Linked DNA regions of Homo sapiens. The protein of the gene in region 1 interacts with the protein of each later gene in a biochemical or structural test. Each region holds a gene or a part of one and is shown in the gene's direction. Other genes may lie near its edges.

What was found.
Region 2: the proteins of CLDN4 (region 1) and TJP1 form a complex in vitro, tested with the Homo sapiens proteins (2 studies listed by BioGRID and IntAct, with this or other methods).

What each region holds. Positions count from the first base shown.
Region 1 is NC_000007.14:73,828,709-73,832,622, forward strand, and holds the start of CLDN4 (claudin-4), read left to right. Parts: upstream 1-2,287; 5' UTR 2,288-2,493; coding exon 2,494-3,123; 3' UTR 3,124-3,914. UniProt on the Homo sapiens protein: Can associate with other claudins to regulate tight junction structural and functional strand dynamics.
Region 2 is NC_000015.10:29,710,563-29,714,476, reverse strand, and holds part of TJP1 (tight junction protein 1), read left to right. Parts: intron 1-2,066; coding exon of another isoform or gene 2,067-2,117; intron 2,118-3,476; coding exon 3,477-3,646; intron 3,647-3,914. UniProt on the Homo sapiens protein: TJP1, TJP2, and TJP3 are closely related scaffolding proteins that link tight junction (TJ) transmembrane proteins such as claudins, junctional adhesion molecules, and occludin to the actin cytoskeleton.

The sequences.
Region 1 (3,914 bases):
GCTGTGATTACAGGCGTGCGCCATCACACCCAGCTAATTTTTGTATTTTTTAGTAGAGATGGGGTTTCACCATGTTGGCCTAACTCCTGACCTCGTGATCTGCCCATCTTGGCCTCCGAAAGTACTGGGATTACAGGTGTGAGCCACTGCACCCGGCCCAAACATTTCTTTTTCTTTTCTTTTGAGACAGAGTCTTGCTCTGTTGCCCGTGGCTGGAGTGAAATGGTGCGATTATAGTTCACTGCAGCCTCAAACTCCTGGCCTTAAGCGATCCTCCCATCCTGGCCTCCCAAAGTGCTGGGATTATAGGCATGAGCCGCAGCAACCACTCCTCACATTTCTTGAGCATCTGTGATGTATCAAGCCAGATGCTGGGCACTGAGGTTGCAGAAGGCATTGTTCCTGTCTTCTAGGAGCCCCAGGCTAGCAGGGAAGACGGATGTGTATAGAGTTAACCACAATACCAGGCCTCAACTTCCCGTCTGTAACACAGGTGGACCATGCTAGATTGTCCCAGCCTGCCCTGTGCTTCATTAGCCGGTCAACAGATCCATCTCAAATACCTCCCATGGGTACTCACTGATTGCTTTAACCCAAACCATGGCACTCTTGAAGACTTTCCCTCAGGAAGCTCAAGGACTATGCATCCTTCTGGGTCAGAACTGGACACACAGCCACCAGTGCTGGACAATGGCGGCGGCTCAGGGACACACTGGAGCCCTGGCCCCTGCAGAGCTCCCAGCATGGTTGGGAAGAGAGATGCAAAATGACCACACGGCGGGTGAGGAGGAGCTCCCTCGGTGCGGCTGGGATGAGCCCTAGACACTCTCAATCACCCCCACGATGACCCCTTCCCAGAGGTCCCCTCAGTCATCTGCCCTGAACCAAGCTCTTCCTGATCCTAGACCCTCCACCCTCCCTCTATCTTCCAGGGCTTGGTGACATTCCAGGCAGAAATTTCTGACCCTTTTACTTTGGTCCCTCCCTCCCCAGCCCAGTCTCTGGTCAAACTGGATTCCTGGCTGTTCCCAGAACGAGCTGCCTTTCCCCACCTTGCCACCTCTGCCCTTGTTCTCTCTGCCTGAATGTCCTCCTTCACTAGCCTCGCTGCCTTGCACATCTCTCCTGAGGGCTGTCATCCCAGAATGAGCTGCATTTGTCCAGCCTGGCCCACCGTCTACCAGAACGTCCTCCTTCAGCCTGTCCCACTGCCTTGCAAAACTTTTCTGGGGGACCTGTTCACGATGCCTTCTGTAGCATACTCCAAGAATCCGGCGCCCCCTGGAGTTGTGCCACACAGCACCCCTTTGCAGTCAAGCTCCCTCAGCACCACCACCTCCACCCTGGAAGAGTTCCCCTTCCCTTTGAAATCTCATGGGACTTTGCACCCACTCTGGCTTTATTGGAAGGCTTTGTATGTCTCCACAGGGTAAACACCCATTTACTGGGGTGATGATGTCTCCAGGATCTAGTTCATGTTTGTCGTTGGTGACTGGCCCCACCCAGTTCTGGGCAAGCAGGCTGGATCCCGGCAGGAACAGAGCCCACCAGCCTAAACTTCCATGGAGGTGGAGAGGGGACAGGCTTCTGTCTCTTTTTGGCTGAAGGTGCATCATGTCCAAGGCCCCTCTTCTAGCCAAGCAGAGAAGCTGGGTGATAAGGATGGGTGAGAGTGGGTGATGTACCCCGGAGTCCTGGCCTCCCGGCTCCTCACTCCCCTACACGTAACTTTATCCGGCCAATGCCGCAAAGACTGCTGGTGAGGCCAGATGCATGAGTGATCATACTCACAACAGTCGTGAAACTGCCAGTGATGAAACTGGTAAGGACAAGAAATGACAATAATCAAGGTGGGGTTTCTCGTGGACGTTTCCAAGACTTCATTCTCAAATTCTCTCCCTCAGGGTCCCCACCCTGTCCTCCCACCTAAGCCTGGAATGAGGGGGCACTGGCCTGTGGGGACCCTGGTCTTCAGGCTCCCAAACCTGGCTGGGTCTGGTTGCCCCCTGGCCTTAACCTGTGAACATCCAGCTGTCCCTGGGCTGTGATTCAGTGTCTGTCTCCCGGGTGACCTCAGCATGGGCTTTGAGGAAGGGGAGAGAGTAGTTTCTTCTGAGACTGGATAGTGACTCAGGGACCCGGGGCTGGGGCCTCAAAAGTGCCTTTGTTGGCCTGGGCTCAGGAATCCAGAGAAACTGGTCAGGAGGAGGCCCCAGTGACAAAAACCCCTCCCTCTGCCCCCGCCCCTCTGCCAGAGCCATATAACTGCTCAACCTGTCCCCGAGAGAGAGTGCCCTGGCAGCTGTCGGCTGGAAGGAACTGGTCTGCTCACACTTGCTGGCTTGCGCATCAGGACTGGCTTTATCTCCTGACTCACGGTGCAAAGGTGCACTCTGCGAACGTTAAGTCCGTCCCCAGCGCTTGGAATCCTACGGCCCCCACAGCCGGATCCCCTCAGCCTTCCAGGTCCTCAACTCCCGTGGACGCTGAACAATGGCCTCCATGGGGCTACAGGTAATGGGCATCGCGCTGGCCGTCCTGGGCTGGCTGGCCGTCATGCTGTGCTGCGCGCTGCCCATGTGGCGCGTGACGGCCTTCATCGGCAGCAACATTGTCACCTCGCAGACCATCTGGGAGGGCCTATGGATGAACTGCGTGGTGCAGAGCACCGGCCAGATGCAGTGCAAGGTGTACGACTCGCTGCTGGCACTGCCGCAGGACCTGCAGGCGGCCCGCGCCCTCGTCATCATCAGCATCATCGTGGCTGCTCTGGGCGTGCTGCTGTCCGTGGTGGGGGGCAAGTGTACCAACTGCCTGGAGGATGAAAGCGCCAAGGCCAAGACCATGATCGTGGCGGGCGTGGTGTTCCTGTTGGCCGGCCTTATGGTGATAGTGCCGGTGTCCTGGACGGCCCACAACATCATCCAAGACTTCTACAATCCGCTGGTGGCCTCCGGGCAGAAGCGGGAGATGGGTGCCTCGCTCTACGTCGGCTGGGCCGCCTCCGGCCTGCTGCTCCTTGGCGGGGGGCTGCTTTGCTGCAACTGTCCACCCCGCACAGACAAGCCTTACTCCGCCAAGTATTCTGCTGCCCGCTCTGCTGCTGCCAGCAACTACGTGTAAGGTGCCACGGCTCCACTCTGTTCCTCTCTGCTTTGTTCTTCCCTGGACTGAGCTCAGCGCAGGCTGTGACCCCAGGAGGGCCCTGCCACGGGCCACTGGCTGCTGGGGACTGGGGACTGGGCAGAGACTGAGCCAGGCAGGAAGGCAGCAGCCTTCAGCCTCTCTGGCCCACTCGGACAACTTCCCAAGGCCGCCTCCTGCTAGCAAGAACAGAGTCCACCCTCCTCTGGATATTGGGGAGGGACGGAAGTGACAGGGTGTGGTGGTGGAGTGGGGAGCTGGCTTCTGCTGGCCAGGATAGCTTAACCCTGACTTTGGGATCTGCCTGCATCGGCGTTGGCCACTGTCCCCATTTACATTTTCCCCACTCTGTCTGCCTGCATCTCCTCTGTTCCGGGTAGGCCTTGATATCACCTCTGGGACTGTGCCTTGCTCACCGAAACCCGCGCCCAGGAGTATGGCTGAGGCCTTGCCCACCCACCTGCCTGGGAAGTGCAGAGTGGATGGACGGGTTTAGAGGGGAGGGGCGAAGGTGCTGTAAACAGGTTTGGGCAGTGGTGGGGGAGGGGGCCAGAGAGGCGGCTCAGGTTGCCCAGCTCTGTGGCCTCAGGACTCTCTGCCTCACCCGCTTCAGCCCAGGGCCCCTGGAGACTGATCCCCTCTGAGTCCTCTGCCCCTTCCAAGGACACTAATGAGCCTGGGAGGGTGGCAGGGAGGAGGGGACAGCTTCACCCTTGGAAGTCCTGGGGTTTTTCCTCTTCCTTCTTTGTGGTTTCTGTTTTGTAATTTAA
Region 2 (3,914 bases), on another chromosome or scaffold:
CATGAGGTCAGGAGATCGAGACCATCCTGGCTAATATGGTGAAACCCTGTCTCTACTAAAAATACAAAAAATTACCTGGGCATGGTGGCAGGTGCCTGTAGTCCCAGCTACTCTGGAGGCTGAGGCAGGAGAATGGCATGAACCCGGGAGGCGGAGCTTGCAATGAGCCGAGATCGCGCCACTGCACTCCAGTCTGGGCGACAGAGCCAGACTCATCTCAAAAAAAAAAAGGAGTATATTTAGGTCTAAAAAGTAAGTTGTTTTGCCAGGGAATCAATCAAAATGCATGTTTGCTTTCTGTGTTAATTTGTTTTTCTAGAAAGAAGACTTAGCTTATTTGTGATGTATAACTTTAGGGTGTAGAACATTGCCTTGCATGCAGTAGGGGCTCAGTAATTGTTGAGTGAATGAAGCTCAAAACAGGGCATGGTATACTAGGTGCATCCACCACCCTTCTTTTCATTAACACAGCTCTGGAAGGAACCTGTATTACCTGGTCATTGTTTTCACAGGGATATATTGTGAAACAGATGACATCTGTCTTTGTGAATTTACTCAGAACTCAGTTTGATTTTACTCCCTGCTGCTGTGAGAGAGAAAAGTATAGTTTGGGCTGGATACCAGTATACTTTTTTTTCCTTTGTAGTGTGAAATTGAAACTCTTTATAATTGTGCTGCATTTTCCCATATAGGTATTTAATGGTTAGAGAAATGGAAAGGAGAATAAGGGTCATGGAAGATAACTAAGAGGGTAGTTGTTTCTGTAAGTTTCCCTTGTAATGCTTTTTCATACTCTTGTCCAATGAGTACAACTTCATCAACTGGAAAATAGCTTAAAATATAGGATTCTGTCCTGCATTTCAAAACCATTTACTGTTTGTCACTAAATAAGACTGCCTTCAGGCATTTCTTTCTTTCAGTAAATACAGGAGTAGCAAAATTTTCTTCCTTCAGATGATGTGTGCTTATGCTTCACTTAAAAACACACCTCAGAAATGGTGAGAATTAGATATGGAAAATAATCTTTGTTAGCACAGGACAGATGCCCCAGGAAGCAAGCAGATATTACCCAGTCTAACAGTTCCATAGAGCTGGATTAGAACTGGAAAGGTTAGGAGACAGTAGCTTAGACATTCACCTCCAAAGTAAATTAGAAGTTTCCAGGATTCTAAAACAGTGCAAGAAGAGCAGTGTCCCTCCAGGGCTGTGCACATGTCTCAGTCCAGAGATTGAGTCAACTTCTTCAGGACAACCAGGGATTTTTTGTTATCAAATCTACCTTTCAGGACTCAACTCACTATGTGAGACTTCCAGGTCTCAATAAATGATGGTGGTTTGTAGCTTTTAAAGAACTAAATGTGAGAGACTGATGTTCAGTTGTTTTTGTGTTTGTGAGACATCATTAGATGAGAGAGAGCCTGAGCATCAAGCATGCAGCTTCACCAGTAAGACTCCACCACCACAGGGCCCAGCTTACGATTGGAGATGGAGGAGGTCTTGCTAGAAAGGAACATGTGAAGCCTGGCCAGGTTTCAAGCCAGGCATATTTCTATCTCTCCATTTACCATTCCCCTCCCAGGGGCTCAATGTAGCTCTTCTGTTGTGTTACTTTTTCCTGTGTCTTCACTTGCAGAATTTCTTTGCCCAGCCTTTTTTTTTTTTTTTTTAATGGGACATGTCACTCCCACTTATTCAGAACCTGCTAATTATCCTTGATCACCACTCTTTGATTTGATAAATTTCTTTGCTCACTATTAGCAGCTGCAACAGAGGTGGAGAAGGAGCAAAGTTCAAACACATTGCTTTTCACTGCAGTAACAGTTAAAGTACATGAAGGATGGGCCAGCAGACGGGACATAACTAAGTGATTGTGTTTTATTTATCTTCAATTTCCTTGGCCAAATGAGAGTTAGTGATATGTTCCTTTATAGACCAAATTATGGTGAAATGGTGGATGTTGGTTGATATTTTTAAATGACATTTGAGTTCCATTTGCTGCAAATTTACTTAGTTAGATTGACCATTTTCTTTCATTTTTCTATTGCGCTTGCTTTGCCATCACCTAGATTTCTTGGCTCTTACACTAGCTATGACTACTTGAAAAGGAACGTCAAGTGGTAAGACTGGCAATTAATGTGAGGCTGTTCCATAAGGTGTCCCTCACTGTGTCACTGGCATTATGTGCACTTTCAGATTTTAATGTCATCATCAAGGGCTTAGTCTAAATTCATGAAAGCAAGATAAAAAAGCCAATCATAAGACTTCTTCAATGAAAATTTATGAAAATGACCAGGAGTATTCCAAATGTATATGTTATTGTTGGTGCACATAAAGCTAGTGCAGCTTTGGCATTCAGCAGTAAGGTTTAGATGGCAATGTTGCAATTATGGGTCTTTTAAAAAGATTTGTGTGAATTTTGTGTTACATATTAACAATTGGCAATCTGAAAAAATAAACATACATGGCACAATTTGACTTAAATGAACCTTGTAAAATAAAGCAGGATCTGCTGCTCTAGCAGTCATTTAACCAAAAAATGGACCTGGTAACTCAAGGGGAAATTTTAAAGTAAAAGCTCCAGTTTTTTTAGTTTTACTGAAACGCAGATATGCCCATTGTCTGTGGCTGCTTCAAGGCTATAACCGCATAATTTGAATAGTTCTAACAAAGACTGTATGGGCCAAAAGACCACAAACATTTACTCTCTGGTGTTTCAGTGAAAAAGTTTGCCAACCCCTAGTCTGTGACATCTGTTTTTATGGTGCTCCGAGTATGCCAGATGCCAGATACAAAATCAGAAGTGGGTCTAGGGCCGGGTGCGGTGGCTCATGCCTGTAATCCCAGCACTTTTAAGAAGCAGAGGCAGGCGGCTCACTTGAGGTCAGGAGTTCAAGACCAGCCTGGACAACGTGGTGAAACGCCATCTCTACTAAAAGTACAAAAATTAGCCAGGCGTGGTGGCTGGCATCTGTAATCCCAGCTACTCGGGAGGCTGAGGCAGAAGAATCACTTGAGCCTGGGAGGCAGAGGTTGTGGTAAACTGAGATCGCGCCACTGCACTCCAGTCTGGGCGACAGAATGAGACCCTGTCTCAAAAACAAAAAAAGTGGGTCTCAGGAAAATTTGTGCCATGATATGTTTTCAGAATATTTGCAAGACTTTCTTAAATCTGTCAACATTACTATCTTTTGTAAATAACAATTAAACTATACCCAAAATTTCACCTGCCTTTGGTTGCCATCTTCTGGATGTTTTACTAATATTCTTAAAGTTTTTGTGTGTCTGGACATTTCTTGTGCCGATGAATGGTCGAATCTGTTTTTATATTTTGGTAGAGTAGCTACCCATACTCATGAGAATAAATTGTGAAATTTCTAGTTTTTTTTTTTAACTTAGAGATACATGGAGAAATGAGAACTTGTTTTGTAAATGTGAGTCCATTTTCAGGTGTTGGCATTTTCTTCATTTGTTAACAGGGGAAAGCCTCCTGAAGCTGATGGTGTGGATAGATCATTTGGCGAGAAACGCTATGAACCCATCCAGGCCACTCCCCCTCCTCCTCCATTGCCCTCGCAGTATGCCCAGCCATCTCAGCCTGTCACCAGCGCGTCTCTCCACATACATTCTAAGGGAGCACATGGTGAAGGTAGGAAGTTCGGAAGTAGACATTTTAACACAGTAATGCTTATGAAGTAAAATTCTGGTGGTTTCTAGGCAAAATGGTTTTTACATTAAAAAATACATGCTTGAAACCTTTGGGCTGGGAACAGTAAAAACTAAGAATTTTGTTAAAAGTATGTCTCCTGTTTTTACAAGACCATTATTTTGGACAAGCCTTTTAGCTAAACAGATTTTAATCTATTTTATGCTAGTCTCTAAATCTTCTGGAAGTAGTGTTTGCCAGTATATGTAAA